Regions from separate parts of the Homo sapiens genome. Here regions 2, 3 and 4 are each linked to region 1. Evidence: fine-mapped expression QTL. A gene starts in region 1. Each other region holds a variant in brackets. All regions are shown on one strand. Distances are from middle to middle. Region 1 holds the start of KCTD2 (potassium channel tetramerization domain containing 2). Region 2 overlaps TMEM94 (transmembrane protein 94). Region 3 has its middle 12 kb from the start of USH1G. Region 4 overlaps CDR2L (cerebellar degeneration related protein 2 like).

Evidence for each region. PIP is the estimated chance that this variant, and not a neighbour inherited with it, causes the effect.
Region 2: its variant is fine-mapped to the expression of KCTD2 in whole blood (INTERVAL, PIP above 0.99).
Region 3: its variant is fine-mapped to the expression of KCTD2 in whole blood (INTERVAL, PIP above 0.99).
Region 4: its variant is fine-mapped to the expression of KCTD2 in whole blood (INTERVAL, PIP above 0.99). The same link has a PIP of 0.9 or more in lung.

The regions. Positions count from the first base shown.
Region 1 is chr17:75,042,166-75,050,267 of GRCh38, reverse strand. It overlaps KCTD2 (potassium channel tetramerization domain containing 2), which reads right to left and starts at 3,043. Exons shown (of 6, transcript NM_015353.3): 1 at 2,679-3,043; 2 at 940-1,048. The coding sequence starts at 3,017. It overlaps ATP5PD (ATP synthase peripheral stalk subunit d), which reads left to right and starts at 3,299. Exons shown (of 6, transcript NM_006356.3): 1 at 3,299-3,343; 2 at 7,609-7,739; 3 at 7,991-8,087. The coding sequence starts at 7,618. RefSeq lists enhancers at 3,060-3,354, 3,239-3,824, 3,763-3,832 and a silencer at 2,933-3,362.
Region 2 is chr17:75,457,786-75,465,887 of GRCh38, reverse strand. All of the region lies in intron 1 of TMEM94 (transmembrane protein 94), which reads right to left. Among named protein-coding and RNA genes, the nearest start is that of TMEM94, 5.2 kb to the right of the region's middle. RefSeq lists a silencer at 5,954-6,003. The variant TG/G (reference allele first, on the strand shown) is at 3,974.
Region 3 is chr17:74,907,300-74,915,381 of GRCh38, reverse strand. No RefSeq gene overlaps it. Among named protein-coding and RNA genes, the nearest start is that of USH1G, 12 kb to the left of the region's middle. The variant G/A (reference allele first, on the strand shown) is at 3,793.
Region 4 is chr17:75,002,368-75,010,469 of GRCh38, reverse strand. CDR2L (cerebellar degeneration related protein 2 like) reads right to left here. Exons shown (of 5, transcript NM_014603.3): 5 at 4,670-7,287. The coding sequence ends at 6,396. Among named protein-coding and RNA genes, the nearest start is that of MRPL58, 6.3 kb to the left of the region's middle. The variant C/T (reference allele first, on the strand shown) is at 3,156.

The DNA.
Region 1 (8,102 bases):
ATAAATATATACACCTACTAGGTACTTACAAAAATTAAAAAAGAAAAATAAATAAGATTAAGATCACCCATGAGTTGGTAATTGTTGAAGCTGGATAGTGGATGCAAGGAATTCACTGTATGTACTATTCCCATTACTTCTGTATGCGTTTGAAATATTGTTTAAAAAGGGACATTTAAAAAAAGAGAGAGAGAGCAATTCCTCTTTCTACTAGCTGAAACAGAGTTGTTTCACAGTCACTTCATTAACTAGTACAGCCATTACAAGCTTTCTTACTCAGAGCCAAAGCTCCCAGATCAGGGTGCCCTGGATTTAGGGACAGTCCCCTTTACAACTGAATGCCTTCAGTGGGACCATGCCAAGCCTTGTAGAAAGTGGACTAGACCCACTTATAGTCCCAATGCCCTACAAACCACAAAGATGAGGCAAGTAATGATACACCTGACAATGAACTAGAGAATGAATTAGGTCAGCTGCAAACATTTACAGGGAAGCATGAGGCCAGAGTCTTAAAAGAAATGAGGCCAAGCCTTTATTATTTTTGTACAACTGTGAGTTCAAACCAAAATTAAAACTATAAATAATTGAATGTCAGAGATGTCTTGCTTCTTCAGACTACAGACACTCACTGCTAGCACACAAACAAATGTAAAAAAAGGATCGTGACAATTCTGGAGATTCGGAAAGAACTCCTGAAGTTATCTGCAAAGCGGAGCTACCTATCTTCCTTCTCACCCAGGAAGCTGAACAAAGCCTAAGGAGGCTTCCTTAATCATGACTCCCTCAGACAAGACTGGTAGTTTCTGCTCTGTTTCATAAACCTGAAACTATACCTGCACATGCGCCTGATGAAAATGTCAAACAAAATTGAAATCTGTAAAACAACTTTAAAGATTCTACTTGCATTTTGAAAATCCCCAATGCAAACAGTGCGCTTACCTTCTTCTGCCAACTCCTTAGTGATGATGAGTTTCCCGTGGCGGAGGTAGTTGAGGATAGGACCAAAGTAGGTGGGGTCCCTGTCAATCAGATAGGCTCCTGTCTCATCCTGCCAACCAAACACAAGGGTATCATTGTGGACCTTTGAGGAGTATTTTAAACAAAGGCAGGGCAGGATTTCACCATCTTTGTCAGCGCCCCAAGACAACAATTCATTCCATCAGCTAAAAAAGACTTTAGTGATGGCAAATTTTGTTACACATTTGTCACAAACTATTGGTAAGAAAGCTATAGCTTTATGTATCTTGTACATTAAGATCATCTTAGGTAGGGTGTTACAGACAGTCATACTCATTTAGGCGTTTACTTACTGGCTGGAATTTGCAATCTTTGCCTGGACAATAATTACAGTGACAAACATTCTTCTGTAGCGTGTTTGTTATTAAGAAAGGGAGAAAATGCCGTAGCTGTGTAACTGAAATCTTTGCTTGAGATGGACATTCTGACTTTTCCACTGCCTCTGAACTGCATTCCTAATTCCAAGAAAACCTCTGTGTAGTTGGCAATGCTCCTGAGCTCAAGGCCAACATCAGTGGGAGTTTGCACTGCCAGCTGTAATCTCACACACCCCAGCTCTGTGCCCAGAGGAAGCTCGGTACTGCCAGGACTTGGCTCTGAGCAGCTTTAATCCTACTCATCTTTACAGTAAAAGGAACAAGAAGAAACTGGCTTCTATTACCACAAGGAGGATATAGAGTAGATAAAAATAATTCCTTTATAAGCAAGGGTTTTGAAATCTCTTTAAAGTTAGGGCAGGATAGGTTTCCATCAATCTGAGATTTCTTAGAGAAGAGGAATAAACGAAAACAACAAATGTTTACGCAACTCCAGCTCTGTTTTGAGGTCACCAGCTGAGTGCTATATGGGATATAAGATGGTGTGAGTTATGGTCAGTGCCTTTAAGTTGAGAACTTAAAGGTGAATACGTAAAGTTAAAAAGAAATTGACACAGTTCAAACTGGAAATGGTTTAAGTGTCTTGTCACCTCTCAACCCTTTGGTTAGCAGCCATGCATCCTGCCCAAAATTTTCCCGGGAAAATTTTCATTTTCCTTCTGTCTTAGCCTAGATTTGCAGCGGCAAACAGTAACCTCTTTCCAAAAAACGCATTTGATCTAAATATGGACCTAAACCAGTGACTGTTAACAGATAAAAGTTCTGCGACCAGGACTATAGAAAAGCAGTGTGATATCACAAGGAGCGCTTCCTGCAGCTGTGGAAGCCCAACTTGGCAGAGGGGTCCGAGAGGGAGTCTGAGAAAGCTACAAGGATGCCTGAGCTAACCCTGACCCAGTTCTGGATGCATCTGGCACCGGCAGTGGGGGGACTGAAGAGGAGCCAGGGAAAACTCATGCAGATCTCAGTGGGATGTCAGGGGCAGAGAATATGGAGAAGGGGTGTGGAGTGCGTTCTCGTGGGTGCAGGTGGGCGCAGTGTGGGAAGGAGTCTCAGAGAACGAAGGGCGGGGTCGGGGAGAAAGCCAGAGTATGCCTCAGCATGGAAGAAGGGGAGTGGGAGGTCCCTCTGAGGCCCCTGCGAGTAGTGTGGGAGGGAGGGGGAGGATGGGGTCCCGGCCTGAGGGGGCTGCCTGTGAGGAGCGTGTCTCAGGACTCTGGGGACCGATCTACGAGAAACCAGGGGGTTCGAAGGCCCGGGGGCGCGCCCGAGGGCGGGGCACACCTTGTCTGAGTCCAGCTCCGGGTCCTCCTGGCAGCAGAGGCGGCAGAGAAATGACTTGGGCTCCCGGCCTAAGGTCTGTCTGGTGGTCACGAAGTAGGTGCCTCCCACGTTCAGCCTGACCCAGCGGGCCGCGCCGCCGCCCCCTGCCCGCTCGGGTGGTCCGGGACCCGGCTCCAGCGGCTGCGCGACGGCGGCAGCCGGGCGGCCGTGCCCGCGGGGCGTGGGGCCAGCCGGGCGTGGGCTGGGGGGCCCGCGGACTGGGCCACCCCCGTCGCCCACCCCACTCCCGCCGCCCCCTCCCAGCCCCGCCATCGCCGGGTCCAGCTGCAGTTCCGCCATCTTGGACCGCCGCCGCCACCGCTGCTGCCCGCGCGCAGCCGGGCCGGCCCATTTCTCGGCAGGGAGAGCCGGGCCGGCCCATCGGCGGGGGTGGGGCAGAGGGGAGAGGGACGGGAGCGCCCCCAACCAGCGCCCGGGGACCCGCGCGGGGGAGGCGCTGTGCCCGCCCCCGGGAAGATACTTCCGGAACCAGCCCTCATCTCTATTGGCTGATCTGCGAAGCAAGGCCCACCCCCTTGGCTTTGGGGTTGGCTGAGGAAAGATCTTCCCGTGACCCACTTCCGTTACTTGCTGCGGAGGACCGTGGGCAGCCAGGGTCGGTGAAGGTGAGTGGGGCTTGGGGCATTGGATCCGATCCCTGGAGGGCTCCTCTGCTCTGCCCTCTCCAAACCTCACGCCGACCCTTGTCACGCCCCCGTCAAGGACGCTGGGCCCTCGGCTTGCCCCGCTGGCAGAGTGTCCCTTGTGTAGCTGCCGCTCCTCGCCCCGCGATCCCTTCCTCAGCCCTCCTTGGCGCGCGGGGTCAGGGGGGCCCGGCTGTGTCCCAGGCGCCGCTGATGTAGGCGCTGCCACAAGCCGTGTCTCGTGCAGTCCGCTCCCAGCGCGGCAGACTTCAATAGTTTGGTGGGGGGACTGGGGAAACATTACGCAGACAGTGTTAACCTGCCGAGGGACGCTCAGCTGGCTGCGGGGCTGCGCCCTTCCCCTTCGGCAGCTTCCAGGATTCGAACGTATAGAGCGTTCAGGGCTCCTCGGGTGCAGAGTTCGGTTACTCATTCAAGAAAGATTCATTGAGCACCTCCTATGCGCATGATCTGTTCTAGGCGCTGGGGATTAAGCAATAGATTTTTAAGAATTAAAAAAAATTTCGCCGGGCGCGGTGGCTCACGCCTGTAATCCCAGAATTTTAGGAGGCCAAGGCGGGCGAATCGCGAGGTCAGGAGTTCGAGACCAGCCTGGCCAACGTAGTGAAACCCCGCCTCTACTAAAAATACAAAAAATTAGCTGGGCGTGGTGGAAGGCCCCTATAATCCCAGCTGCTCGGGAGGCTGAGGCAGGAGAATCGCTTGAACCCGGGAGGCGGAGGTTGCAGTGAGCCGAGACCACGCCACTACACTCCAGCCCAGGCGACAGTGCGAGACTCCGTCTCACTCACACACACACACAAAGTTATTTGTGACTTCCATTTTCCACTGATGTTGCGGGAAATCAGGGACCCCAAACAGAGAGACCGGCTGAAACCATGGCAGAAGAACGTGGATTGTGAAGATTTTATGGACATTTATTAGTTCCCCAAATTAATACTTTTGTAATTTCTTATGCCTGTCTTTACTGCAATCTCTAAACATAAATTGTAGAGATTTCATGGACACTTATCACTTCCCCAGTCAATACTCTTCTGATTTCCTATGCCTGTCTTGTCTTTAATCTCTTAATCCTGTCAGTTGAGGATGTATATCGTTCCAGGACCCTGTAATAATTGTGTTAACTACAAAAATTGTACAGCATGTGTGTTTGAGCAATATGAAATGTGGGCACCCTGAAAAAAGAACAGGATAACAGCAATTGTTCAGGGAACAAGAGAGAACCTTAAACTCTGACCGCCGGTGAGCCGGGCAGAACAGAGCCATATTTCTCTTCCTTCAAAAGCAAATGGGAGAAATATCGCTGAATTCTTTTTCTCAGCATGGGATATCCCTGAGAAAGAGAATGCGCACCTAGGGGTAGGTCTCTGAACTGGCCCCCCTGGGGCGTACCTGTCTCTTATGGTTGAGACTGCAGGGGTGAAATAAACTCCAGTCTCCCATAGCGATCCCAGGCTTATTAGGAAAAGGAAATTCCCACCTAATAAATTTTGGTCAGACCGGTTGATCTGAAAACCCTGTCTCCTGATAAGATGTTATCAATGACAATGGTGCCCAAAACTTCATTAGCAATTTTAATTTCGCTCTGGTCCTGTGGTCTTGTGATCTCACCCTGCCTCCACTTGCCTTGTGATATTCTATTACCCTGTTAAGTACTTGATGTCTGTCACCCACACCTATTCGTATACTCCCTCCCCTTTTGAAACTCCCTAATAAAAACTTGCTGGTTTTTGTGGCTTGTGGGGCATCACGGATCCTACCAACGTGTGATGTCTCCCCCGGACGCCCAGCTTTAAAATTTCTCTCTTTTGTACTCTGTCAAGCCAGTCGACGCTTAGGAAAATAGAAAAGAACCTATGTGACTATCGGGGCAAGTTCCCCGATACACTGATGTTTGGGAAAGTCTGTAAGGGTGCTTGGTTCCCTGGTAACTTTAAAATCACATGCCAATTGCCTTAACACCTCCCCTCCACAACAGGAAACAGGCTGTCCTGAGAAAGAAAGGAAGGACAGGACAGGTGTTTGACAACTTTCTTGAAGATCCTGAGAAAGACTGCTTCCGCCTCCCTTGCATTCCACTCCAAGCTTATAGAGATTTTTGACTTTGCAGTCTTTTAATATCTGACCCTGATCTTACTTAAAGAGGACTATTTTCCTATATTCTGACTTTTTTTTTAAGTGGCTGTAGTCGTTTTCTGTATTTTTCTCACATTTTCACATGTGTTGAATACCTCTTAAAATGCAGGCCGGGCGCGGTGGCTCATGCCTGTAATTCCAGCACTTTGCAAGGCTGAGGTGGGTGGATCACCTGAGGTCTGGAGTTTCAGCCCATCCTGGCCAACGTGGAGAAACCCTGTCTCTACTAAAAATACAAAAATTAGGGCCGGGCGCGGTGGCTCACGCCTATAATCCCAGCACTTTGGGAGGCCGAGGCGGGTGGATCATGAGGTCAGGAGATCGAGACCATCCTGGCTAACAAGGTGAAACCCCGTCTCTACTAAAAATACAAAAAATTAGCCGGGCGCGGTGGCGGGCGCCTGTAGTCCCAGCTACTCGGGAGGCTGAGGCAGGAGAATGGCGTGAACCCGGGAAGCGGAGTTTGCAGTGAGCCGAGATTGCGCCACTGCAGTCCGCAGTCCGGCCTGGGCGACAGAGCGAGACTCCGTCTCAAAAAAAAAAAAAAAAATACAAAAATTAGCTGGGTGTGGTGGTGGGTGCCTGTAATCCCAGCTACTCCGGAGGCTGAGGCAGGAGAATCGCTTGAGCCTGGGAGGTGGAGGTTGCAGTGAGCCAAGATGATGCCACTGCACTCCAGCCCGGGGGACAGAGTGAAACTCCATCTCAAAAAAAAAAAAAAAAAAAGTGCACAACGTGTGCTGGTGCTGCTAGGGTATAATCCGATGTGAATAAGAAGGTGCAGGTGTATTACCAATCTAGTTGGAAGGGGATAGCCCTTTTAAGTTTGTAAAACTCTGGAGCAAGTTGCTGTGCACAATTTCATGTGACACTTTTAGCAGCCCTCTGGGGCAAGCAGGACTGATAATGCCCATTGTACACATAAGTAAATTTTAGCCTAGAGAGTGCTCTATTTAAGGCTTGTTGAAACTTAGGTGTGTGTCAGTTTCTGTCTACTGGAGAATCAGTGAATAAAACACAATCTGGGTGGAAATGTCTTTATTAACTTTTATGCAATAAGAGTGTTATTTTTAGTAATTTTTCCAGAGGCACATGGAGGGGATAAAGAGAGCTGGGGTTTGTTTTTTTTTTTTTTTTTGAGACAGAGTCTCACTCTGTGTCCAGGCTGGAGTGCAATGGCGCTATCTCAGCTCACTGCAACCTCCGCCGCCCAGGTTCAAGTGATTGTCCTGTCTAAGCCTCTTGAGTACCTGGGACTACAGGTGCATGCCATCACGCCCGGCTAATTTTTGTATTTTTTAGTAGAGGCAGGGTTTCACCCTATTGCTCAGGCTGGTCTTGAACTCCTGACCTCAAGTGATCCACCCACCTCAGCCTCCCAAAGTGCTGGGATTACAGAAATGAGCCACTGCGCCCGGCCAAGAGAGCTGGGCTTTTAAGGCTAAATAGGAGTTGGGAGAGAATGTATTTGTATGCCACATTGCACACTTTGAATTTGAAAAGCTACACTGTCCTTTCCTTTTCTTTTTGAGACGGACTCTTGCTGTGTTGCCCAGGCTAGGGTGCACTGATGCCATCTCAGCTCATTACAACCTCTGCCTCCTGGGTTCAAGTGATTCTTATGCCTCAGCCTCTGGAGTAGCTGGGATTATGGCGCGGGCCACCACGGCTGGCTAATTATTGTATTTTTAATAGAGATGGGGTTTTGCCATGTTGGCCATGCTGGTCTCGAACTCCTGACCTCAGGTGATCCAACCGTCTTGGCCTCCCAAAGTGCTGGGATTACAGGCGTGAGCCCACTGCGCCTGGCCGCACACCTTGAATTACCTTGAATTTGAAAAGCTACACTGTCTTTTTTTCTTTTTTTTTGAGTTGGAGTCTTGCTGTGTCTCCCAGGCTGGAGTGCAGTGATGCAGTCTCGACTCACTGCAACCTCCACCTCCTGGGTTCAAGTGATTCTTGTGAAGACTTGCATGTTTCTAAGATTTAAAGGATTCTCTCTAAGAGCTCTTATTTTGTTATTTATCATTTTTCCCAACTGAAAATTCACCTCATAAAAAAGCCTTGTTTTTATTTGACTTATTTTTCAGGATCCCAAAATGGCTGGGCGAAAACTTGCTCTAAAAACCATTGACTGGGTAGCTTTTGCAGAGATCATACCCCAGAACCAAAAGGCCATTGCTAGTTCCCTGAAATCCTGGAATGAGACCCTCACCTCCAGGTCAGTATGTTTCTGAGAGGGAACCCCATACTTGCCACTGAATCTAGAAACAAAACAGTATTAAGGAATTACATATGAATTCTTGATGCCCTTATGACAACATATAAAGAAATCCTTGCATTTTCATGATGATCTTAGGAGAGGAAAGTGTGGTGACCCTCCAGGCCATAGGAAGAAGGGATAGGAAAATTACCATGTGAATTTTCTACTGCTTATGAACAATCCTAACTTTTGCCTTTCCTTGTGGGCAGGTTGGCTGCTTTACCTGAGAATCCACCAGCTATCGACTGGGCTTACTACAAGGCCAATGTGGCCAAGGCTGGCTTGGTGGATGACTTTGAGAAGAAGGTGAGACTTCACACC
Region 2 (8,102 bases), 420 kb before region 1:
AAAAATAAAAAAAATTTCCACTCTTCAAAATATGCCATAAAAAAATTGACGTTGGGCACAGTGGTTCATGCCTATAATCCTAGCACTTTGGGAGGCTGAGGCAGACAGATCACTAGAGGCCAAGAGTTTGAGTCTAGCCTGAGCAACATACCAAAATCACGTCTCAAAAAGCAAAAGTAGTTTTGAAGTCTTTGGGATTAAAAAAAAATATATATATATATATATATATATAAAAATTCTTATAGCTCAGTAACAAGACCAACAACCCAATTTTAAAATGAGCAAAGATTTCAGCCAGGCATGTTGGCACACACCTGCAGTCTTAGCTACTTGGGAGGCTGAGGCAGGAGGATCACTTGAGCTCAAGAGTTGGAGGTTGCAGTGAGCCATGATCTCGCCACTGCACTCCAGCCTGGGCAACAAAGTGAGAACTTGTCTTAAAATAAATAAATAAATAATAAACAGGCAGAGATTTGAACAGACATTTCACAAGATATATAAACAGTCAATATGAATATGAAAAGATGGTCAACAACATTAATTATTGGGAAACAAAAATTAAAACCACAATGAGAAGGCCAGGCATGGTGGCTCACGCCTGTAATTTCAGCACTTTGGGAGGCTGACGGGGGAGGATGACTTGAGGCCAAGAGTTGGAGACTAGCCTGGGCAACATAGCAAGACCCTGTCTTACAAAAAAATTTAAAACCACAACGAGAGACCAATACACACCCATTAGAACGACTAAAATGAAAAAGACTGAGAATATGGCTGACGCAGGAGGATCTTGAGACCAGGAGTTCAAGGCTGCAGGGAGCTATGATCACGCCACTACACTCCAGCCTGGGAAACGGAGTGAGACCCTGTCTCTAACAACAACAACAAAAAGAGCCGGGTGCAGTGGCTCATGCCTGTAATCCCAGCACTTTGGGAAGCTGAGGTGGGTGGATCACCTGAGGTCGGGAGTTCAAGACCAGCCTGACCAACATGGAGAAACCCCATCTCCACTAAAAATACAAAAATCAGCCGACTGCACCTGTAGTCCCAGCTACTTGGGAGGCTGAGGCAGGAGAATCGCATGAACTCAGGAGGCGGAGGTTGCAGTGAGCTGAGATCATGCCATCGCACTCCATCCTGGGCAACAAGAGTGAAACTCCGTCTCAAGAAAGAAAGAAAAGAGGAAAGAAAGAAAGAAAGAAAGAAAGAAAGAAGGAAGGAAGGAAGGAAGGAAGGAAGGAAGGAAGGAAGGAAGGAAGGAAGGAAGGAAAGAAAGAAAGGAAGGAAAGAAAGAAAGAAAGAAAATGAAAAAATACACAGGGATAAGGGGCCAAAATGGAGAGGCTCTGAGGAGTCACTGAAGAGTCTGGGTTTCTGAGTAGGCCCCAGGTTTGTTTGTTTGTTTGTTTGAGACAAGGCCTCACCCTATTGCCCAGCCTGGAGTACAGTGGTGCGATCACAGCTCACTGTACCTCAACTTCCCAGGCTCAAGTGATCCTCCCACCTCAGCCTCCCGAGTAGCTAGGATCACAGGTATGTGCCACTATGCCTGACAATTTTTTTTTTGGAGACAGGGTCTATGTTGCCCAGGCTGTTCTCAGTATTTTAAGAGGGTAGAAAATGGATCAGAGGGAAAAGGAAAGAAATTATAGGCAGAAGAGTTAGAAGAAAATGATGATAATCTTGGTTTGCCATGCCAAGTATCTAGACAAAGCTGGCAACAGTAGCCATGAAGACAAAGGGGTGGATGCCTCCTGCTGCCAAGCTCAGAAACAAGGTCAAAAAGAACTAAGTGGGAGCCCAAGGCTCAGGTTGAGGGCAAGATGAGGAGTTGGCTGTCCTTCTAATCCCTTCTAGCACAATCTTCATTAGCTGTGCTTGTAAGCCAGCCATGCCCAACACACCAAAAATGCGGTTAGGTGGATCTGTATTCGGTTTAATAGTTGTGCCCACAGGGTACTAATTGATAGATCTGTGTTAAGCTGGAGGGAAGTTTTTAATAGCAAGCTGTAGGATTCTATCCTTGGTGGCATTACAGTCAATATTTTTATCAATGACTTGGGTGAGGAAACAGATGGTATGCTAATCAAATTCTTGGATAGCATAAACCTGGAAAGGAGATCAAAGTCAAAATCCAAGAAGCTCTCAACAGGCTGAAGTGATGGGCCAAATCAAAGGGGTTCAGTTTAACTGGAAAAAATATTAAGTCCTGCACTTAGGTTCAAAAACTACTGTATAAAACTACCACAAATGGCTTAGTTAGATGCAATTTCAATATGAGTGTATGCTCACTCAAAGTTCATTCACATTTAGGCTGCATTAACAGATACCTGTGTCCCTAACAACAGACGAGGAAGTCTGATTTCTGTACATGTCAGAGCATACCTGGAATATCTTGTTCAGTTGCGCATCACACACTTTAAGAAGGACACTAACAAAACTGGAAGGATTTCAGAGAGCAGCAACCAGGTTGGAGAAACTAAGACGTGAGAAATGGCAGAATGAACTGAAGATGCTTAGCCAGTACCCTAAAAACACACTTTGGGTGCAAGCAGGGCTAGAAAGGTATAATGGCTACAAGCAGTGAGAAGGGCCAGGCTTACTCTGGGAGGCCCCAAAACAGGAACTAGGATGCTATAAGAAGTAGACTGAGACTTAAAATGTACAGTATCTTTCTACATAATTTAAACTGTATATATATATATATATATACACACACACACACACACATATATATACGTGTATATATATACATATATACACGTATATATATACATATATATACACACATATATATGTGTGTGTGTGTGTATATATATATATATATATATATATATATATATATATATATATTTTTTTTTTTTTTTTTTTTTTTTTTTTTTACTTTTTTTATTTTTGGAGACATGTCCTCATTCTGTTGCCCAGGCTGGAGTGCAGTGGCATGATCATGGCTAACTGCAACTGCAGTCTCAAACTCCTGGGCTCAAACAATCTTTCCACTTCAGCCACCCGAGTAGCTGGGACCACAGACACATGCCACCATGACCAGCTTTTTTTTTTTTTGTAGACACAAGGTCTTGCTATGTTGCCCAGACTGGTCTAGAACTCTGGGGCTCAAGCAAATCCTCCCACCTCAGCCTCCCAAAGTGCCGGAATTACAGATATGAGCCACTGAGTCAAGCCTAGAACTGTATATTTTTAATTTTTTTTAATAGAGATGGGGTCTCACTTATGTTGACCAGGCTGGTCTCGAACTCCTGGCCTCAAGCGATTTTCCCATCTTGGCCTCCCAAAGTGCTGGGATTACAGGTGTCAGCCACCATGCCCAGCCTTAGAACTGTATATTTTTAAAAATGGAATAGGCTGCCCTGTGAAGCAATGAGCTCCCATCACTAGAGGGAACCAAGCAGAAGCTGAGAAATTATGGAGATAATTAATACATGAGGTGGAGGGTAGGAAGACAATTCTAACCCTGAGAGAATGTGAAACCAAAAATCCAATAGCTTCTCCATATGCAAAGATGCTCAACTCTGCTTATAAAAGACATTCAGGCCAGGCGCAGTGGCTCACGCCTGTAATCCCAGCACTTTGGGAGGTCGAGGCTGACAGATCACGAGGTAAAGAGATCGAGACCGGCAGATCACGAGGTCAAGAGATCGAGACCATCCTGGCCAACATGATGAAACCCTGTCTCTACTAAAAATACAAAAAAATTAGCTGAGAGTGCTGGTGGGCGCCTGTAGTCCCAGCTACTTGGGAGACTGAGGCAGGAGAATCACTTGAACCCAGGAGGCAGAGGTTGCAGTGAGCCGAGATCGTGCCACTGCACTCCAGCCTGGGCAACAGAGCAAGAAGACTCTGCCTCAAAAAAAAAAAAAACAAAACAAAACAAAACAAAAAAAACTGTAAAATTTATATAGGAGATAGGAAAAAATCTTTGTGACTTTGGGTTACATTTCTTTTCTTTTTTTTTTTT[TG/G]AGACGGAGTCTTGCTCTGTCGTCCATGCTGGAGTGCAGTGGCACGATCTCGACTCACTGTAAGCTCCGCCTCCCGGGTTCGCGCCATTCTCCTGCCTCAGCCTCCCGAGTAGCTGGGACTGCAGGCGCCCGCCACCACGCCCAGCTAATTTTTAGTAGAGACGGGGTTTCACCATGTTAGCCAGGATGGTCTCGATCTCCTGACTTCGTGATCCGCCCACCTCGGCCTCCCAAAATGCTGGGATTACAGGCGTGAGCCACTGCGCCCGGCCTACTGTGGATTACATTTCTTAGATTCAGTACCAAAAGCATAATCCACAAAAGGAAAAATTAATAAATTGGAACTGAGTGGCTAGGGAATGGTTGGGAGCAGGAAGAATTTTTACTATATATACTTTTTAAAAAAATTCTTTTTTATACTTTTTTCTGCCCTTGAATACATATACTTTTGTGCCTTTTGATTTTCAAACCATGTGAATGTATCCAATATGTCTTTAAAAGATCAGCAACTTCAGGCTGGACACGGTGGCTCATGCCTGTAATCCCAGCACTTTGGGAGGCCGAAGCAGGCGGATCATCTGGGGTCAGGAGTTCGACATCAGCATGGCCAACATGGCGAAACCCCGGCTCTACTAAAAATACAAAAATTAGCCGGGCACGGTAGTGTGCACCTATATTCCCAGCTACTCCGGAGGCTGAGGCAGGAGAATTGCTTGAACTCGGGAGGCGGAGATTGCAGTAAGTTGAGACCACACCACTGCACTCCAGCCTTGGGCAATAGAGCAAAACTCTGTCTCAAAAAAAAAAAAAAAAAAAAAAAGCCAATCGCAAAAGGACAAATGTTGTATGATTCCTCTTATATGAGGTTTCTAGAATAGTCAAAATCACAGAGACAGAAAGTAGAAAGATGGTTGCCGGGGGTGGGAGCAGGGGGGAAATGGGGAGTTAAATGTTTAATGGTGACAGAGTTTCAGTTTGGGAAACTAAGAAAGTTCTGGAGATGGATAGTGATGAGGGTTGCACAACAATGCAAATGTACTTAATGCCACAGAACTGGTTACAATGGAAAATGTTATACTATGTATTTTTTTCCTTAATTTTAAAAATCGGCAACTTCTGGCCACCTGTAATTCCAGCACTTTGGGAGGCCGAGGCAGGCAGATCCCTTGAGCACAGGAGTTTGAGACCAGCCTGGGCAACAGGGCAAGAACCGTCTCTGTAAAAAATACAAAAATTAGCCAGGTGTGGTGGCATGTGCCTGTGGTCCCAGCTACTCAGGGGGTAAGGTGGAAGGATCACCTGAGCCCAGAAGATCAAGGCTGCCGTAAGCCGTAATCACACCACTGCACTCCAACATGGGCTACAGAGCAAGTTCTGTCTCAAAAAAAAAAAAAAAAATCAGCAGCTCCTGATTCTGATTTTGCAATAGGCTCTGCCTTATAGCTAAGCAACATTCCCTACTTGGCTTTCACGTCAACATAATGAAGGTTTACGCTCTTTCAGTACACCTGAGTCTTTGTCCAGCATACATCTTTTTTAAGTGTTTCCCAGTATTTTTCTATTCACCTCCCTACCAAGCAAGACTGGTACCATGAACCCCTTTTTCAAGAAGCCCTTGAAGTTATGAAAATTGGGTTCATTTAATTATAGTACACTAAAATTTATGGTTCCTCAAATACCACTCTAAGCCTTTCAAGGTTCTTCTCTCTGACACCCCTCACCCCTCTCCCATCACTTCTGGCCTTGGGAGCTAGAGAAACCCAAAGCAAGCAGTGTGTGGTTTGCTCCTCCTTACGCAGGCCATCAGTGTCTAAATCTGGCCCTTAACCTACTTGTCATGCCATGTGACCCATACTGTTTACTACCGTCTCAGTGGCCACAGGCAAAGCTTATTATTACACAAACCCCTGATCACCAAACCACACATTCTGGCTGGCGGGTCTGCTCGGAAGAAAAGCATTCCTGTTTCAGCCATGGCCTACCCTCTAGTTCACCTGTGCTGCTATAAACAAACCCAGGCCTGCTTGGAAACGGGCTTTAAACAATATTTTTAAATCCTATCATTTGGGTAAAGAAAGACACCATCGTAAAAACAACACTAACACAATAGTAAGATAAGAAATATTGACACATATTTACCAACCAGTGCCACGCCTGACCCAGAACCTTCTCACTTGAACACCAGGAATGGACTTAAAGGCTTTATGGCGTTCAGGCTTAGACTGCTAAGGTACGAGTTCAACCTGATTCATCAGATTAAGCTAAATACATACAGCCTTGGGTGTAGGTGGTATTTACATTAGGACTCCTCCCTCTCCTATAGAAACTGTTTCTCAAGCCCAACTTAGGGAGAGAGCAGCAGGCAGGAACAGGACGATCACAACCTTCATTTCTCATTAGTTTCTACAGGAGTTAAGGTTTCCAAAAGGCTGGTTCTCAGCACTAGGAGCTGGCACACCTAGCAACTTCTCAAAATAGAAATGCCATGGGGTTTCTCTTCCATTTCACTGTCAAGGCCTGGCTCTCCCAGTCTCATCTGATGTCAAGTCACCACAAACAAGGGGCATGGTGGTCTGGTGGTTCAAGGGCAGTTAACTCTCAATTATTTGGGGGCTGATGATGAAGAAGATGGTTTGTACTTCACCTCCCTGGTCATTGCACTACTCCACAGTATCCACCAGTTTCCCTGTTTGCAGTTTTGACAAAGAGAACCAGTGAGCAAGGAAGTTAGAGCTAACATAGCAGCTAAGACTTGCAATGTTTGAGGATTTTATCTGAACATGCTGTCTCCTGTTCTAGGGTTAACCACCATAGTCTACATTTTATTTGTTTTTGTTTTTTTTGTTTTTTTTTTTTTGAGACGGAGTCTCGCTGTGTCGCCCAGGCTGGAGTGCAGTGGCGCGATCTCGGCTCACTGCAAGCTCTGCCTCCCGGGTTCACGCCATTCTCCTGCCTCAGCCTCCCAAGTAGCTGGGACTACAGGCACCCGCCACAATACCCAGCTAATTTTTTGCATTTTTAGTAGAGATGGGGTTTCACCGTGTTAGCCAGGATGGTCTTGATCTCCTGACCTCGTGATCCGCCTGCCTCTGCCTCCCAAAGTGCTGGGATTACAGGCGTGAGCCACTGCGCCCGGCCAATAGTCTACATTTTAATGTGCTCTGATCTTTACAGTGATTTTCAAACTTTTTGATTCCATGACTCTTTTTTTTTTTTTTGGAGACAGAGTCTTGCTCTGTTGCCCAGGCTAGAGTGAGTGCAGTGGCATGATCACAGCTCACTGCAGCGTCGACCTTCTGGGCTCAAGCGATCCTCTGGCATCCACCTCCCAAGTAGCTGGGAACACAGGCACATGCCACCATGCCCAGCTAATTTTTTTGGTTTTCTTGTCAGTGTGTTGCCCAGGTTGATCTCAAACTCCTGGGCTCAAGCAGTCCTCCCACAGCAGCCTCCCAAAGTGCTGGGATTACAGGCATTACTTTGACTCTTTTGAACCTTACTAGTGCCATTGCTTTAAATTTTTTTATTTATTTGTATTCTTTTAGTTATGCCTCAGGATCTAACTTTTTTTTTAAACTACCTCTTCAGAATACCAAGATCAGCTCTTCTTTTGCCAAAAGTACTATAAAGAGATACCACAGTGCCATTTCTTCTCTCTTCAATGGCTCTCAATCTTTTTCTGCCTCCACGCTGTTCCTGTATGCAACGCGTTCCTGTTAATAACATCTCTAATGACACTGTAATGGTTCCCAAAAACCAAGGAAGAGGCATACCTTCCTCTTACTCTGCCTCTCGCTGCCCTGAGAATCACTAAAATAATTTACGCCCCCAATACAGACAGAGACTACAATGAATATTAATACAAGAAGTCTGCCAGAGAACTACCTGCTGGCTTCTTAAAATTACTGAATGCAAACCAGGTATGAAGACCCTAGTCATTGCCAGGAAGCATAGGAGGATCCTACTTTTAATGCCCATCGCTTTTAATGCCCAGAGCCACCCTGCAAGAGCTCAGGGGAGTCAGGGAACTTGATCTCCTCAGGTCACACCTAGGAAACAACTAGGTCTAGCGGATAAAGAACTCAAGCCCCTGGACTTTCGGATTCTAGTTTGGCTCTAGGTGACCCT
Region 3 (8,082 bases), 130 kb after region 1:
AAGGTTGCCTAGCAACCATCCAGGGGTTCCAAGCCACCTCCCTCCACTTTACAGATGGAAAAACTGAGGCCCACAGAGGGGAAGAGTCAGACCCAGAACGCGGGTCTCTGGCTGCTGCCATGCTCTCCTCACACTCAGGCTGCCAAGGGCGCTAACACAACAGGATTCCACCAGCCATGCCCTGGGGGCGCACCTCCCTGCGGCTTCTTTGGCCATCCTGGTCACTGCACCCACCTCAGGAAAGACTCACTGGTCCTTGCCGCGATGGTCCAGAAGAGGACACGGGTGAGGAATGACAAGACAGAGAGCCGAGGGGCACTTTGGCATCCCAGCAGAGATGAACCAGAGGCAGCAGGATGAGGGGCTCCATGGGTCAGTGTGGCTCCAGGGCAGAAGCCTGGGGTGCCAGGAGCAGGAGCTGCTCCAGGGAGCCTGTGGGGATGTTCAACACAAGCAAAGAGGAGAAAATATTACATGGTAGGGGCTCAACTTTCATGACTCATTTCCCTAAAGATTTAGATCAAGAATAGGGACATTTACGAGGTCAGGAGATCGAAACCATCCTGGCTAACATGGTGAAACTCTGTCTCTACTAAAAATACAAAAAATTAGCCTGACGTGGTGGTGGGCGCCTGTAGTCCCAGCTACTTGGGAGGCTGAGGCAGGAGAATGGTGTGAACCCGGGAGGCAGAGCTTGCAGTGAGCCGAGATTGCGCCACTGCACTCCAGCCTGGGCGACAGAGCGAGACTCCGTCTCAAAAAAAAAAAAAAAAAAAAAAAGGGACGTTTTAGCACTTTGGGAGGTAGAGGTGAGTGGATTGTTTGAACCCAGAAGTTCCAGACCAGCCTGGGCAACGTGGCAAGACCCTATCTCTACAAAACATTTAAAAATTAACCTGGTTGGTGGTGTGCACTTGTGGTCCCAGTGTATGCGAAATTGGTGGGTTCTTGGTCTCACTGACTTAAAGAACGAAGCTGCAGACCCTCACGGTAAGTGTTACAATTCTTAAAGGCAGCATGTCCGGAGTTTGTTCCTTCTGATGTTCGGATGTGTTTGGAGTTTCTTCCTTCTGGTGGGTTCGTGGTCTCGCTGGCTTCAGGAGTGAAGCTGCAGACCTTCGCGGTGAGTGTTACAGCTCTTAAGGTGGTGCATCTGGAGTTGTTTTTTCCTCCCGTCCAGAGTCGTTCATTCCTCCCGGTGGGTTCATGGTCTCGCTGGCCTCAGGAGTGAAGCTGCAGACCTTCGCAGTGAGTGTTACAGCTCATAAAGGCGGTGCAGACCCAAAGAGTGAGAAGCAGCAAGATTTATTGCAAATAGTGAAAGAACAAAGCTTCCACAGTGTGGAAGGGGACCCCAGCGGGTTACCAGTGCTGCTTGGACAGCCTGCTTTTATTCCTTTATCTGGCCCCACCCACATCCTGCTGATTGGTCCATTTCACAGAGAGCTGATTGGGCTGTTTTACAGAGGGCTGATTGGTCTGTTTTGACAGGGTGCTGATTGGTGTGTTTACAATCCCTGAGCTAGACACAGAAGTTCTCCAACTCCCCACTAGATTAGCTAGACGAAAAGCACTGATTGGTGTATTTACAAACCTTGAGCTAGACACAGAGTGCTGGTTGGTGTATTTACAATCCCTTAGCTAGACATAAAGCTTCTCCAAGTCCCCTCCAGATTAGCCAGATACAGAGTGCTGATTGGTGCATTCACAAACCTTGAGTTAGACACAGAGTGCTGATTGGTGCATTTACAAACCTTGAGCTAGACACAGAGTGCTGATTGGTGTATCTACAATCCCTTAGCTAGACGTAAAGTTTCTCCAAGTCCGCACACATTTATTCTTTTTCCCCTTTCCCAGTTCTAAGGCTCAGGTAAGTGCCACTAGTTCTGCTAACTGGGCCCTGGTCCCTGGGGGAAGAGGCTTACTTTCAAGTATGGTTACCTCACTATGGCGTAACCTGCCCTTCATATCCCATTCTCCACAAATGAACTTCCATTGGTATATAGGTTAAGGTCAGGATTAGCTAAGGGGACTTCTAAGGGATCATCTCGGGTGGCATAAGTCTGGACCATAAAAGTCATGCTCGATTGGTTCCCCATCCTCTGGGAGAAAAGTGGCAGGGTTGAGGGCCACGCATGTGCATATTTGAAGCACCAGTCCCTCAAGGAGTAGCTCCTGGTATCTAAGTAGGCAGTTGTCTGATAGCCATAAACTTCCTTTGGCACATAGTATGCCATTTACATCATGAGTAGTCCATACAGTGAGATCTTTTCCTTGTATTATTTTGATGGCCTCTGACACTAAGATGGCCACTGCTGCAACTACCGTTAAACAGTGAGGCCAGCCTTTTGCTACTACATCAATTTCCTTACTTAGGTATGCCACTGGTTGTGGGGTTGTCCCACGAGTCTGAGTAAGGACTCCAAGAGCTATCCCTGCTCTGTGACGTATAAAGAGAAATTTTGTCCTGTTGGAAGGCTTAAAGCTGGAGCTTGTGCTAGGGCCTGCTTTAAGGTTTTGAAGGATGTTTCTGCCTCTGGTTCCCATTCTACTAGATGAGTATTTGCCTTCTGGGTTTCCTTGATTAGAGTATAGAGGGACCTGGCTATCTTGCTGTATCTGGGGATCCATAGTCAGCAAAAGCCGGTAATTCCAAGGAACTCCCTTAATTGTTTTAATGTCTTAGGGTGAAGATAAGCCAGTATAGGCTGTATTGGTTCCTTGCTGAGGGCCCTGGTGCCTCTGGCTAAGATTAGGCCTAGATATTTGACCTGCTGTAGGCAAGGCTGGGCCTTCGACCTAGACACCTTGTACCCTTGATTAGCTAGAAAGTTCAAGAGATCTAGAGTAGCCTGCTGGCATGAGGCTTCCGAACTGGTAGCCAAAAGTAAATCATCCACATATTGAAGGACCAGAGTGCCTGGACTTGAGAGATGGCCTAGATCTTGGGCCAGTGCCTGACCAAGCAGATGAGGGCTATCCCTAAACCCATGGGGCAATACCGTCCATGTAAGTTGGGATGTGTGGTCTGTGGGATCCTCAAAGGCAAAGAGAAACTGGGAGTCAGAGTGCAGGGGAATACAGAAGAAGGCATCCTTGAGGTCCAGAACCATGAACCATTCTGCTTCCTCTGGTATTTGAGAGAGCAGGGTATAGGGGTTGGGTACAACTGGATATAGAGGAATTACTGCCTCATTGATGGGTCTAAGATCTTGCACTAGTCTCCACTGACCTTTCAGTTTTTGTACTCCTAGAATTGGGGTGTTGCAGGGACTGCTGCATTTCCTTACTAAGCCTTGAGCCTTTAAACGTTTAACAATATTCTGTAATCCTTTATGGGCTTCAGGCCTTAAGGGATATTGTCTTTGATAAGGAAAAGTGGTGGGATCTTTTAACCTGATTTGGACTGGGCAGGCATTTTTTTGCCCTTCCAAGTTGTCCTTCCAGTGCCCAGACTTCAGGGTTGATTCCCTCCTCAAGTAGGGGACAACAAATGGGTAACTTGTTCCCCATATTCATGTAGATAATAGCTCCAGCCTTGGACAATATATCCCTCCCTAATAAGGGTGTGGGACTTTCAGGCATAACAAGAAAGGCATGTGAAAAGAGCAAAGTCTCCCAATTACGACTGAGGAGGTGGGAGAACTACCTGGTTACAGGCTGTCCCAGGATTCCTCAGATGGTAATGGACCTTGAGGACAGTCATCCAGGACAGGAGATTAACGATTAACACTGAGAAGGCCACGCCAGTGTCCAGGAGGAAGTCAATTTCCTGGCCCTCAATGGTTAAAC[G/A]TACCCGGGGCTCAGTGAGGGTGATGACATGAGCTGGTGCTTGCCCCGGGCACCCTCAGTCCTGCTGTTAGATCATCTGGTTGGGGGCTTCTGACCCAGATAACCTTCATCCTCTGGGGCAGTGCACCTTCCAGTGATTGCCTCGGCATAGTGGACATGGACGAGGGGGCAGCTTGTTTCTCATTGGACAATCTTTTTTAAAGTGTCCTAGTAAACCACACTGATAAAAAGCCCTACCGGGTTATTGGCCTGCTCCATTTTCTGTCCTCTCTGAGCCACCAAGGTTTGTTTGTCTGAGGGCCATGACTAAGGCTGCGGCCTTTCTCTGATCTTGCTTTTCCTTTCGGGCCTGTTCCTCTTGGTCCCTATTATAGAACACTGAGGTTGCCAGGTTTAATACTGCCTCCAAATTTTGTTCAGGGCCCAGGGCTTGCTTTTGGAGCTTTCTCCTGATATCTGCAGCTGATTGGGTAATAAACTTATCTTTTTGAATCAGTTGACCCTCGAGTGATTAGAGTGACAGGGGAGAATATTTTCTTAAGGCCTCCCGTAGCTGCTTGAGGAAGGCAGAAGGATTTTATTCCTTTCCCTGAGTTACGGTGGACATCATTGAATAATTCATGGGCTTTTTTCCTAATTCTTCTTAGTCCTTCTAGAGCACAGGTCAACAGATGTTTATGACTCCAGTCCCCATGATCTGAGTCAAGGTCCCAGTGGGGATCCATACTGGGGATGGCTTGCTGACCAGTAGGGAATTTGTCCCTTTCTTCGGCTGTCATTCTATCATTTACTTGACTAAGATACCAAGTATCTCCAAACTCTTGGGCTGCAGCTAAAGCCACATTCTTTTCATTAAAGGCCAGGGTTTGATCTAACAGCAGCATGACATCTCTCCAAGCGAGGTCGAAGGTTTGCCCTAGACATTGTAGGACATATATGTACCTATCAGGATCATCTGAAACTTCCCCAGGTCTGCCTTGATCTGCTTTAAGTCAGAGAGGGAGAAAGGGACATGTACCCAGGTTGGGCCAAATTCCCCTCCCCCTACAGCTTGAAGGGGACATAACTGATAGCCCAGGGGTTTTTGTGGTCCTTTGGAGATTTCTTTGCTTATTTCCTTCTGGGCAGGGGAGATTAGCGGAGGATTATCATTCATAGGAAGGGGAGCTATAGGGAGGCTAGGATATGGGGGTAAGCTGAGAGGTCCTCCTGTGGGATGTAAATTGCAAGCTTTGCATAGTTGTGTATTCTCCCTCAATGAAAAGAAAGCTTGGACATAAGGTATTCCACTCCATTTGCCTTCCCTCTTACAGAAAAGGTCAAGCTGCAGGATAGTATCGTAATTCGTACTTCCCTTAGGTGGCCATTTTTCCCCATCAGGGAGAGGCTATTGGGGCCAAGCCGTAGTGCAGAAAAAAATAAGCCGCCTCTTTTTCAGGGTTTGTGGGTCAAATTGGTCCCAATGGCTTAGGATGCATTTCAAGGGTGAGCCTGTTGATGCCTGAGTGTTTCCCATCTGAAAGACAAAACCGCCCGTGGTTTTGGTTTTTGTTTCTCCCCCTGCCCAAGAACCTGCAACGGTCCCTGAACCCTGCTGATCAGAATAGTTGTGCTCACTGACGCGGCAGCAGAAACACTAGCTTTCCTCCCAGACCACATGGAGGACCGAGGAAGGTTGGATTTAGTGGCCCTTACCTATGCATTCTCGAAAACCTGCACCCTTCCCTGTCCTCCTAGACCACAAGGAGGACTGAGAAAAATAGGATTTAGTGGCCCTTACTGACGCATTCTCAAAAACATGTTAGAGTCCCAAGCATTCTCCTGTTAGTATTGGGACCTTACCCATGTCCTATAAAGATGTTATGCCCCAAAAATGAAGTGGAGGGCCATACCCTGAGGGAGGGAAGGGATCTCCAGGGTTGGAAGAGTGACACCTTTTGCCCTCACTTATATGAACAGGAAGGATACAATTTCTGAGGCTCCCCATATCCTAGCTTCAGGAATAGATTTTGTTAGGCCTGTTTGTCTGAGAAGGGATCCTAAATTTCCAGGTAGTCCCACTATGATGGGGCTTTGGGCAAAAATTATGTCTTTCTGATTGGTGAGCCTGGGTGCCTAAAGAAGGTAACAGAGTTTATACTAGAAGTCATTCTTATAGGAGAAACTAGAAAAGCACCAGAGACAGGTAGTGATTTTTAGAAGCAGGACTAACCTTGGAGAAGATAGGTGAGAGGAAGTTTGTCTGGCAAGCATTAGGACCCAGGGGACAAGGGTCAGGATAGATAGGATAGATGGGCGAGTCTTGCTTGGGCAACATGCCTTTGAGAGTTCTGCTCATGGCCACAGGGTCAACCAACTTGTTGTTGGGACCCCAGAGCTGCATGGCTTTCCTCTCTGTCAACGCTTGGCTCAGCCCAGAAGTACAGGAAAAGTGGAAGCTGGTTCTAGGCAAACCAACGCTCCCAACTCCGAAGAGTAGGGGATTGTTAGAGAGCCCTTTCCCAGAAAGCCTGACATCCGTGTCTTTAGTCCGGTGGCCATGCTAGTGGATTTTAACTGGCCGACAGGTGCCCGGTATTTAGCTCCCAAATTCTAAGGAAAAATAGGACAGAATAGCAAGTGAAAGGGGTCCGATGGTACTCACTGCTTGGCGATAGGTGATAGTCCCTTCACTCAGTGATACACAATGGTCTCACCGCTTGGTGATAGGTGATAGTCCCTTCAAGGTTGCCAAAATGTGTCAGGAATTGGTGGGTTCTTGGTCTCACTGACTTCAAGAATGAAGCCGTGGACCCTCGCGGTGAGTGTTACAGTTCTTAAAGGCAGCATGTCTGGAGGAGAGAGGAGAACAGCAGCATAAGCAGCTGGCAGAGGCAGCAGAAAGGAAAGAGAGAAAGAGACAGGAAGTCAGAGAAAGAGAGAGGAAGAAACAGAGACAAAAAGAAGGAAAGAGAGGAAGAGACAAAGGGGGAGTCAGAGAGAAAGAGAGAAAGAGAGAGACAAAGAAGAAGTCGAAGAGAGAAAGAGAGAGATAGAAATAGTAAAGAAAAAACAGTGTACCCTATTCCTTTAAAAGCCAGGTAAAGTTCTGCCTACCCAGCCAAGGCATATTCTTCTTATGTGGAACATCGACCTATATCTGCCTCCCCACTAACTGGACCGGCACTGGCACCTTAGTCTTTCTAAGTCCCAACATTAACATTGCCCCAGGAAATCAGACTTTTATCAGTACCCCTCAAAGCTCAAGTCCGTCAGTGCAGAGCCATACAACTAATACCCCTAATTATAGGGTTAGGAATGGCTACTGCTACAGGAACTGGAATAGCTGGTTTATCTACTTCATTATCCTACTACCACACACTCTCAAAGGATTTCTCAGACAGTTTGCAAGAAATAACGAAATCTATTCTTACTCTACAATTCCAAATAGACTCTTTGGCAGCAGTGACTCTCCAAAACCACCGAGGCCTAGACCTCCTCACTGCTGAGAAAGGAGGACTCTGCACCTTCTTAGGGGAAGAGTGTTGGTTTTACACTAACCAGTCAGGGATAGTAAGAGATGCCACCTGGCGTTTACAGGAAAAGGCTTCTGAAATCAGGCAATGCCTTTCAAATTCTTATACCAACCTCTGGAGTTGGGCAACATGGCTTCTCTCCTTGTAGGTCCCATGGCAGCCATCTTGCTGTTACTTGCCTTTGGGCCCTGTATTTTTAACCTTCTTGTCAAATTTGTTTCCTCTAGAATCGAGGCCATCAAGCTACAGATGGTCTTACAAATGGAACCCCAAATGAGTTCAACTAACAACTTCTACTGAGGACCCCTGGACTGACCCGCTGGCACTTTTACTGGCCTAGAGAGCACCCCTCTGGAGGACACTGCAGCTGCAGGGCCCCTTCATCACCCCTATCCAGCAGGAAGTAGCTAGAACGGTCATTGGCCAAATTCCCAACAGCAGTTGGGGTGTCCTGTTTACAGGGGGGATTGAGAGGTGACAGCGTGCTGGCAGCCCTTGCAGCCCTCGCTTGCTCTAGGTGCCTTCTCGGCCTTGGCGCCCACTCTGGCCACACTTGAGGAGCCCTTCAGCCCACCGCTGCACTGTGGGAGCCCCTTTCTGGGCTGGCCGAGGCCGGAGCTGGCTCCCTCAGCTTGCAGGGAGGTCTGGAGGGAGAGGTGCGGGCGGGAACTGGGGCTGCACACGGCGCTTGTGGGCCAGCGCGAGTTCCAGGTGGGCGTGGGCTTGGCGGGCCCCGCACTCGGAGCGGTCACCAGCGCCGCCGGGCCCCCGGCAG
Region 4 (8,102 bases), 40 kb after region 1:
TGATCCGCCTGGCTCACTCGGCCTCCCAAAGTGCTGGGATTACAGGCATGAGCCACCATGCCCCACCAGATGGCCTCTTAAAACTCATCATTGACCAGGTGTGGTGGCTCTCACCTGTAATCTCAGCACTCTGGGAGGCCAGGGTGGGTGGATCACCTGAGGTCAGGGGTTCAAGATCAGCCTGGCTAACATGGCAAAACCTCATCTCTACTAAAAAAATGCAAAAATTAGCTGGGCATGGTGGCATGCACCTGTAATCCCAGCTACTCGGGAGATTGAGGCTGGAGAATCGCTTGAACCCAGGAGGTGGAGGTTGCAGTGAGCTGAGATTGTGCCACTGCACTCCAGCCTGGGTGACAGAGCAGGACTCCGTCAAAAAACAAAACAAAACAAAACAAAACAAAACTCATCATTATGTGTAGATAGGGAATGTGCAATGAGGCATGGTGGATTGGTCAGGACTAAGTTTAAATATTTATTTTTTTATTAAAAAAATAGAAAAATGTGTCCATGTCCTAACTGCTGGTAACTGTGACTATGACTTCATTTTAAAATTGTATTATTATTATTTTTTGAGACAAGGTCTCGCTCTGTCACTCAGGCTGGAGTGCTGGTATGATCACGGCTCACTGCAACCTCGGCCTCCCCGGCTCAAGCTATCCTCCCACCTCAGCCTCCCAAGTAGCTGGGATTACTGGCATGTGCTGGATAATTTGTGTATTTTTGTAGAGACAAGGTTTCTTGTCTCTACCAGCCCAGGCTGGTCTTGAACTCCTGGGCTCAAGCAATCCACTTACCTTGGCCTCCCAAAGTGCTGGGATAATAAGCATGAGCCACTATGCCCAGCCGAGTTTGAATATTTCTATGTGACCTTGAATTACTAACCTGACCTCTAAGTTTTTGTATCCTCATCAGTAAAATGGAGATTTTATAGTCATCTCATAAAGTTCCTGAGGATAGTAAACACATATAAAACACTTAACACAGTGCTTGGCATGAAGTCAGCAGGCAACAAAAATTAGCTGCTGCTAAGGGATGCTATGTGCATGCAGGTTCCTTAAGGGACACTTTTCTTTCAGACACCTGATTACTGTTGTCTTTTTTCCTCTGTAGCCCTGGAGTGGGAAATCCAGTCTGACGAGCTGTATTCCAACCCTCTTTCCTTCTTCCCTGAGGGGATGGGCAGCACAGAGCTGCCCACCTCTCCCTGGAAAGTACTTCCTTCATTGCTACCCCTTATCTGCCTGGTCCCCTAAAACTGAGGCCACCCCCCAGCTCTCAGCTCAGGATCCCCAGGGAGGGCAGAGGCAGGTCTGTTTGGCTAGCTGCCCTCCCTAAGTGGGGTGGTGGGTTTGGCCCTGGGAGAGGAGAAGGGTGCCAGTTCAGGGGAGGAGAGAATGGGGCAGGGGCCGGGGGGCGGGGAGGAGCTCCCTGCAGCAGGGAGTATCTGTCCACAGAGCAAGGACAAAGTGGTGATCAGGAGGGAAGAAGGGAAAGAAAGGAGGGAAGAAGGGAAAGAAATGCATCCAGAGGGCGGTTTAGAAAGCTGAGGGAGGCCAGGCATGGTGGCTTACTCCTGTAATCCCGGCACTTTGGGAGGCCAATGTGGGAGGATCATTTGAGCCCAGGAGTTCAAGACCAGCCTGGACAATATAGCAAGACCTGGTCCCTACAAAAAATTAAAAAAAAAAAAATTAGCCAGCATAGTCCCAGCTACTGGAGAGGCTGAAGAGAGAGGATCACTTTAGCCCAGGAGCTGGAGGCCGAGTAAGCTACAGTTGTGCCACTGCACTCCAACCTGGGCAACAGAGCAAGACCCTGTCTAAAAAAAAAAAAAAAAAGGCTGAGGGAGAAAAGGGTGGCTGGATTCACGCCACGGCTTCCTTCGTCTCTCAGGTGTGACTGCTCCATGTGGTCACCACCACCTGCTCCCCATCCTGGTGACGACAGGTGACAACAGGATGGGAAAACCCAACAGCCACTTGCACGCTGCCCTTGTAAAAGCCCCATGCTGTTCAGTTGATGTACTAAGCACAGCAGTTTGGGGCCCAGCCTTGGGCTTGCCACACCACACTTTTTTTTTTTTTTTTTTGAGACTGAGTCTCACTCTGTCGCCAGGCTGGAGTGCAGTGGTGTGGTCTAGGCTCACTGTAACCTCAGCCTCCTGAGTTCAAGCAACTCTTGTACCTCAGCCTCCGGAGTAGCTGGGATTACAGGTACACACCATCATGCCTGGCTAATTTTTGTGTTTTTAGTAGAGATGGGGTTTTGCCATGTTGGCCAGGCTGGTCTCCAACTCCTGGGCTCAAGTGATCCTCCTGCCTCCGCCTCCCAAATTGCTGGGATTACAGGCATGAGCCACCATGCCCAGCCCCACACCACACTTTCCTCCCCTCCTGAGTTCAAGGGAAGTTGTTCCCCATCAGGACATTTGGGGAAGGAGTTTTGGGGAGAAGCCTGCATTTCCCCCCAGTTCCAGCTGGCCCCTGAGTCTACCTCCCTTAGAAGACTTTGGAAGCTTTTCCACAGACTCAGGTTGTGTGGGCTGGTGGAACTGGAGTCCACAGAGCTGCCTTTTTTTGTCTGGAGACGAGAGAGTGAAGCTAGCAAGAAACCCCTCAAAGATTCAGGAGCATTTTCCTCTCTGGTTTTGGAAGTCCCCCATCGGAAAGGTCCACCCAGGCTGCTGGTGCGAGAAGGGGTGGGTAGCGTTGGCAGTGTGAGGCGAAGGAAGATACCCTAGAGGTGCCCCCTTTGATCAGGATCCACAGTCCTGTTTCTAGGCTTCCAGTATCTGAGCTTGGACAGCAATTCTTTTTTGAGACGGAGTCTCACTCTGTCGCCCAGGCTGGAGTGCAGTGGCGCGATCTAAGCTCACTGCAAGCTCCGCCTCCCAGGTTCACACCATTCTCCTGCCTCAGCCTCCCGAGTAGCTGGGACTAAAGGCGGCCACCGCCATGCCTGGCTAATTTTTTCTTGGACAGCAATTCTTAAGTTCAGGATGGACATTACTAAATCTGGAGAGGGCTGAGTGGAGCATGGGAAGTTTGAAAAACCGCTATCATTTTGCTTTTTTTTTTTTTTTGACGGAGTCTTGCTCTGTCACCCAGGTTGGAGGGCAGTGGTGCGATCTCGGCTCACTGCAACCTCTTCTT[C/T]CCGGTTCAAGTGATCCTCCCACCTCAACCTCCTAAGTAGCTAGGATTTTTGTATTTTTAGTAGAGACAGGGTTTTACCATGTTGGCCAGGCTGGTCTCGAACTCTTGATGTCACATGATCTGCCTGCCTCAGCCCCCCAAAGTGCTGGGATTACAGGCATGAGCCACCTCGCCCGGCCTATCATTTTGCATTGAGGAAAACAGAAAACCCAACGGATTGACGGCACTTCCAGAACAAGAGGGAGGCTGGTGTAATCTTGGTGATGGGGACCCCTCCAGAAGATGAACCCCTCTATGTACCGTCCTCTGTATAACATGGGGAGGAGACAGATATCTGAGGAAGAATGGGAGTGGTGAGGTTTTTCATGTATATGGAAGAGAGATATGGGGTTTATCAGCTTGAAAAACACCAGGAGATGGCCCTCTTGTCATTCCTGTGACTGTCCTGTGTCATCAATGGGTGGCTCACCAAGGGCAGGTCAACTTCCCCATCCCTCATGGTCCTTCAGGGCATCAGTCTGGCCCTGGACTTCCTGCCGTGGCGTCTCATTGCACTTAGGAGGCCCGAGCTCCCCTGAACCTTCCGGGCTCTTAGGAGCCTGGCCTCCACCCTCTGTTCTGGCCACCCCCCACTGCCCCAGCTGCTCCCTGGGCCTCCACTTATCTTCCCGTTGGTTCCTCCTCAGCCTTCTGGTTTCAGCTTCATCATCACCTCTCCAGAGGTGCCCTGACCACCCTCGCTTAGCATTTCTCAATCTTTTTTTTCCATGATCGCTCCCCCTTCCTACCTCAAAGAGCCTATTTAGACATTTTCTCCGAATTGCTCCCCCAGGAATTTTAGTAACACTGTATATCTCTTCATGTGCTGTATTTATATATCTAGATATGATTTTTTGAGACAGGGTCTCGCTCTGTTGCCCAGGCTGGAGTGCAGTGGTATGATCATAGTTCACTTCAGCTTTGACCTCCCAGGCTCGTGATCCTCCCACCTCAGCCTCCTGAGTAGCTGGGACTACAAATGCACACCACCATGCTCTGCTAATTTTCAAAAAATGTTTTGTAGAAAGGGGGTCTTGCTATGTTGCCCAGGCTGGTCTCAAACTTCTGGGCTCTAGCAATCCACTTTGGCCTTCCAAAGGGCTGGGATTACAGGCATGAGCCACCGCGCCAGGCCGATTTTTTTTTTTTTTTTAACTTGGTTCACCCTGTTGGGCCCACGTGCTCTAGCTGAGGTAGCACTACCCTCTTGCCCCGATTTTTCCATCATGCCGTATCTTTTGTTTGTTTATTTTGGGTGGATCTCCCCACACCAGAATATAAACTCCAAGGGAAGAGGGGCCCTGCTGGCTTGTTCACCATGTATCCCTAGCTGGCCCTCAATAAATATAGAAACTTCTGCCAGAGCCTGCTATTTGGAGCTGTTCAGTCTCAGGGAAGTGGGACACAGGATGTTACCCTCTCCCATGGCTGGGCGTGACGCGAGGCAGGTGTGTGAGATGCACAGAGATGGGCCATTTTTGCTTTTAGAATACTGGTGCATTTTTTATTAAAGAAGAGAATAAAGCATTTGTAAATATATTTCTCTCACGTATACTTCAAAGGTGACGCTGGTCTGCCACTACAGAGCTGGGGAGCAGACAGGCTGGAGCTCTTCCCCCAACCCTTCCACACTCCTCTCCCCCAGATAACAGACACACACGGAGGGCAGGGAGCTGCCTAGCCTCAAAGGACAAAAGTTTCCCAGTTGCACGTACAGAAGGACTCAGTCGCCACCAGCTCCCATCACAGTGCCGCCCGGAAAGCAGGTGGTGTCTCCAGGAGGTCAGGGATGCTTGGTAAGAAAACCCCTTTACCCATTAGAAATAAATAAGGCATGAAGGTTCCCACTGGGATCCCGGTGCAGAGGCCAGGGCCCCCCCGCCTTCCACTGACTGTATGGCTCTTCTGGTTTCTAAGGTCTCAGGAAGGGCGGCAGAAGGAACCAGAAGCCCTGAAGGGCTGCTCAGGGCAAGCTGGGGACCTGGGTGTCTCTTAGCTGAACTTGACTTTCTGACATCTTGAAGCAAAACTCCTGACGCAGCTGGGTCCTCAAAAGCCCCCCACAAAGGTGGGAGGTGAAGAGCAGGCATTTTATGGGAGGGAGGGAGGGAGCATGTTCCTCAGCCCCATCCCAATACAACACGATGCAGCATGGGGCGAAAACCCCAGTCCCCAGTGAAGGGGAGGCAGGGGTGGACATTGGGACCACCGGCTGGTGGTGCATGTCCAGAACATTCTGGGGGCTGCAGACATGACCTGTGCCAGGGTTGGCCTGTGGGGAGCGTGGAGTGACTGAGACATCATGGTCCCTGAGATGGGGGCAAGCACAGAGACGGGAGTCAGAGGCCAAGCTTGGTTAGTTGGTGGCGGTGTGAAGGGATGGGGGCTCCCCACTGCCCCGGCCCCTGGAAAGCTTAAGGCCCAGCAGGCATTTCTGGGGTTGGAAGCCAAGGAGACAAGCTCTGAGCGAAACTGCACCACTCTGCTGAGGGGCTCCTTCTCCTCCTCCTCTGACTGGCTACAGATCTGCGGTGGGCCAAGAGTATCCAGGGAGAAACCTGTCCCTGGCAGGGCTGGAGCAGGGACACTCCAGGCCCAGCTGAGGCTTCCTGCTCTGCATGGCAGGGGACATCTCTGACCTGGTCAGGACCCTGGAGGTGGGACAGCTGGTGCTAAGGGAATGTCAGCGCATCAGGGTTGGGGAGAAGCAGTGGGTGGTCCAGGAAACCCCTGAAACAGCTGGCCCTGGGGTCCCCTTTCAAGTGTTTCCAGTTGTGGCAAGGGGTCAAGGAGACCTTGCATTGCAAATCTCTTAGAAAAAACAAACTTAACCAAAAAAAAAAAAAAAGCCAACTGATCCAGAATGGCTTTCAGAAGCCTGGTCACCAGTCTGAGGGTGAGGCGCAGGGTCAGGAAGCCAGGGGCTGGGGGAGCTGGGGGATCCCTGGGGTAGTGGGGACATTTGGCTTTGAACTCAGAGCTGCGCCTTTGGGCTGGCGCGAGGTGGCCAAGGGCTCCTGGGAGGCAGGACAGGTGGGCTGCCTCCGCTCAGCAGGGAACATGCTGCGTGCTTCCGGATCAGGAGGCCGCGTGCTGTGGTGGCAGGCCGCTAAAGGGCGCTCGCTCTCTGGAAGCTGCACCGCCCAGGCCTGAGGGACCCCACGGCTTCCACCCTGGGGGAGGCTGCAGGCCGGAGAAGGGTCACTTGCTGCTGTGCGTCTTGACTTTGGTGGCGTTGATGTCAGCCTTGGTCTTCTGGATCCTGGAGAAGATCTCTTTGAAGAGCGCCTTGTACTCGGGCTGGCTCTGTTCCAGCCGCTTGTCCACGGCCTCCACGTGCTGGCTCAGGCTCTTCTCTCCTGCCTTGACCTCACCCTGGCCCTCCTCACCCCCGCGCAGGTCCCTCCACGAGCTGTCCCGGGAGATGGGGCGCGAGGTCTGCACGCCGGCGTGCCGCACTCCGGCCCCGTGCTGCCGGCACTTGCTCAGCAGCTCCTCGTACTTCTCCAGCAGCGCGTGGTACTGCTCGTCCACCTCCCGCAGGATGGACATGCCCCGCTTGCGCACGCTGTTGGCGTGCAGTGTGAGGTTGCCCGCGTGCCGGCTGGCTGGGTCTTTGGCCACGATGGCGTTGAGCGCAGTGTCGCTGCAGCTCTTGCGCACCACGTGGCCTGGAGAGGCTGCCGGTGAGGAGACCCCGTCCTGGGCGCCCAAGTCGTCCCCGCGGCCGGGCTGGGGATCGTCGGCCTCAGGGGCCTGCGTGAGGGGTGCGAGCAGGGCCTCGGCCAGGTGGTCGTCCGGACCCAGTAGGTAGGTCTTGGCCTGCTTCATCTGCTGCAGCTCCAGCAGCTCGGCCTCCAGCTCCTGCACACGCAGGCGACAGGCCTCCATCTCGCACAGCTGGCGCTCCAGCTCCGAGTACTCCTGCAGCACCGCGGTGTACTCGCGCTCCGCCCGCTCCTTGCGCTGCCGCTCCTGGCTCACCTGGGAGCGCAGCGCCCCCACCAGGGTCTGCAGCCGCTCGTTCTCCTGCTCCAGGGGCCGCGGGCCCAGCTCCAGGGAGGAACTGTGTAGGCGGAAAGCATCCTTGCACCTGGCGGGTAGTGAGAGTCGCAGCGGGGTGGGGGCGGAGGAGAGGGCAGTGGTCACGGGCACGGCCAAGGCCGAGCAGCCCAGCCAGGGCGCTTACATCTCTCTTGTTCTCTGGGCTGAAATTGTTTGCCCCTCTCCGTTGGCTCTCCACCCTCCTCCACCCTTCTCCCCCTGCTCTCTGCCCCCGGAGGCTGACCACTACGGACCGCCTCTGTCAGGTTGCCTGGTTCTCTCCTGAGCTTGGCCCATGAGAGGCACTGGCTAGAGGTCCGAGGGGGGAGCAGAGGCCGTGGGGTGTGTCTTCTTTGGGCTCTCCATGGTTAATGGTGACCAGGCAGCCTTCTCCATACCTTCCAGGTGCCGGTAACCTCCCTTCCCCCTTGCGCTTTGAGGCCTAGGGCTGGTGGCAGCTCCTCTCTGCTGCAACCCTGGGGCACTATAGTGTCCCTGTGGTTTCCCTACCCCCTGCCCACACCTCTTCTTCATTTAACTTCTCCATTACTCTGTGTAAGAGACTGTTTCCTGCCAGGACCCTTATTGAAACACCCACTACATATGACACATGTATTTTTCCATTATTAAGTGGTTGTCTAGTGTTAGATTTAATGGGAACTGAAAAGCACAGTGGGTTACCCCTCCTGGGTTAGCATGCTGGCTGAGCCTCTTACTAAACAGGTGACCTTGGATAAGACACACAACCTCTGGGCTTCAGTTTTATCATCTGGAGAGTAGGCATAATAAAACACCCCCAACAGTGTTGCAATAAGAATTATATCAGCATAGTGGCAGCACACAGCCAGGGCTCAGTAAACGCCA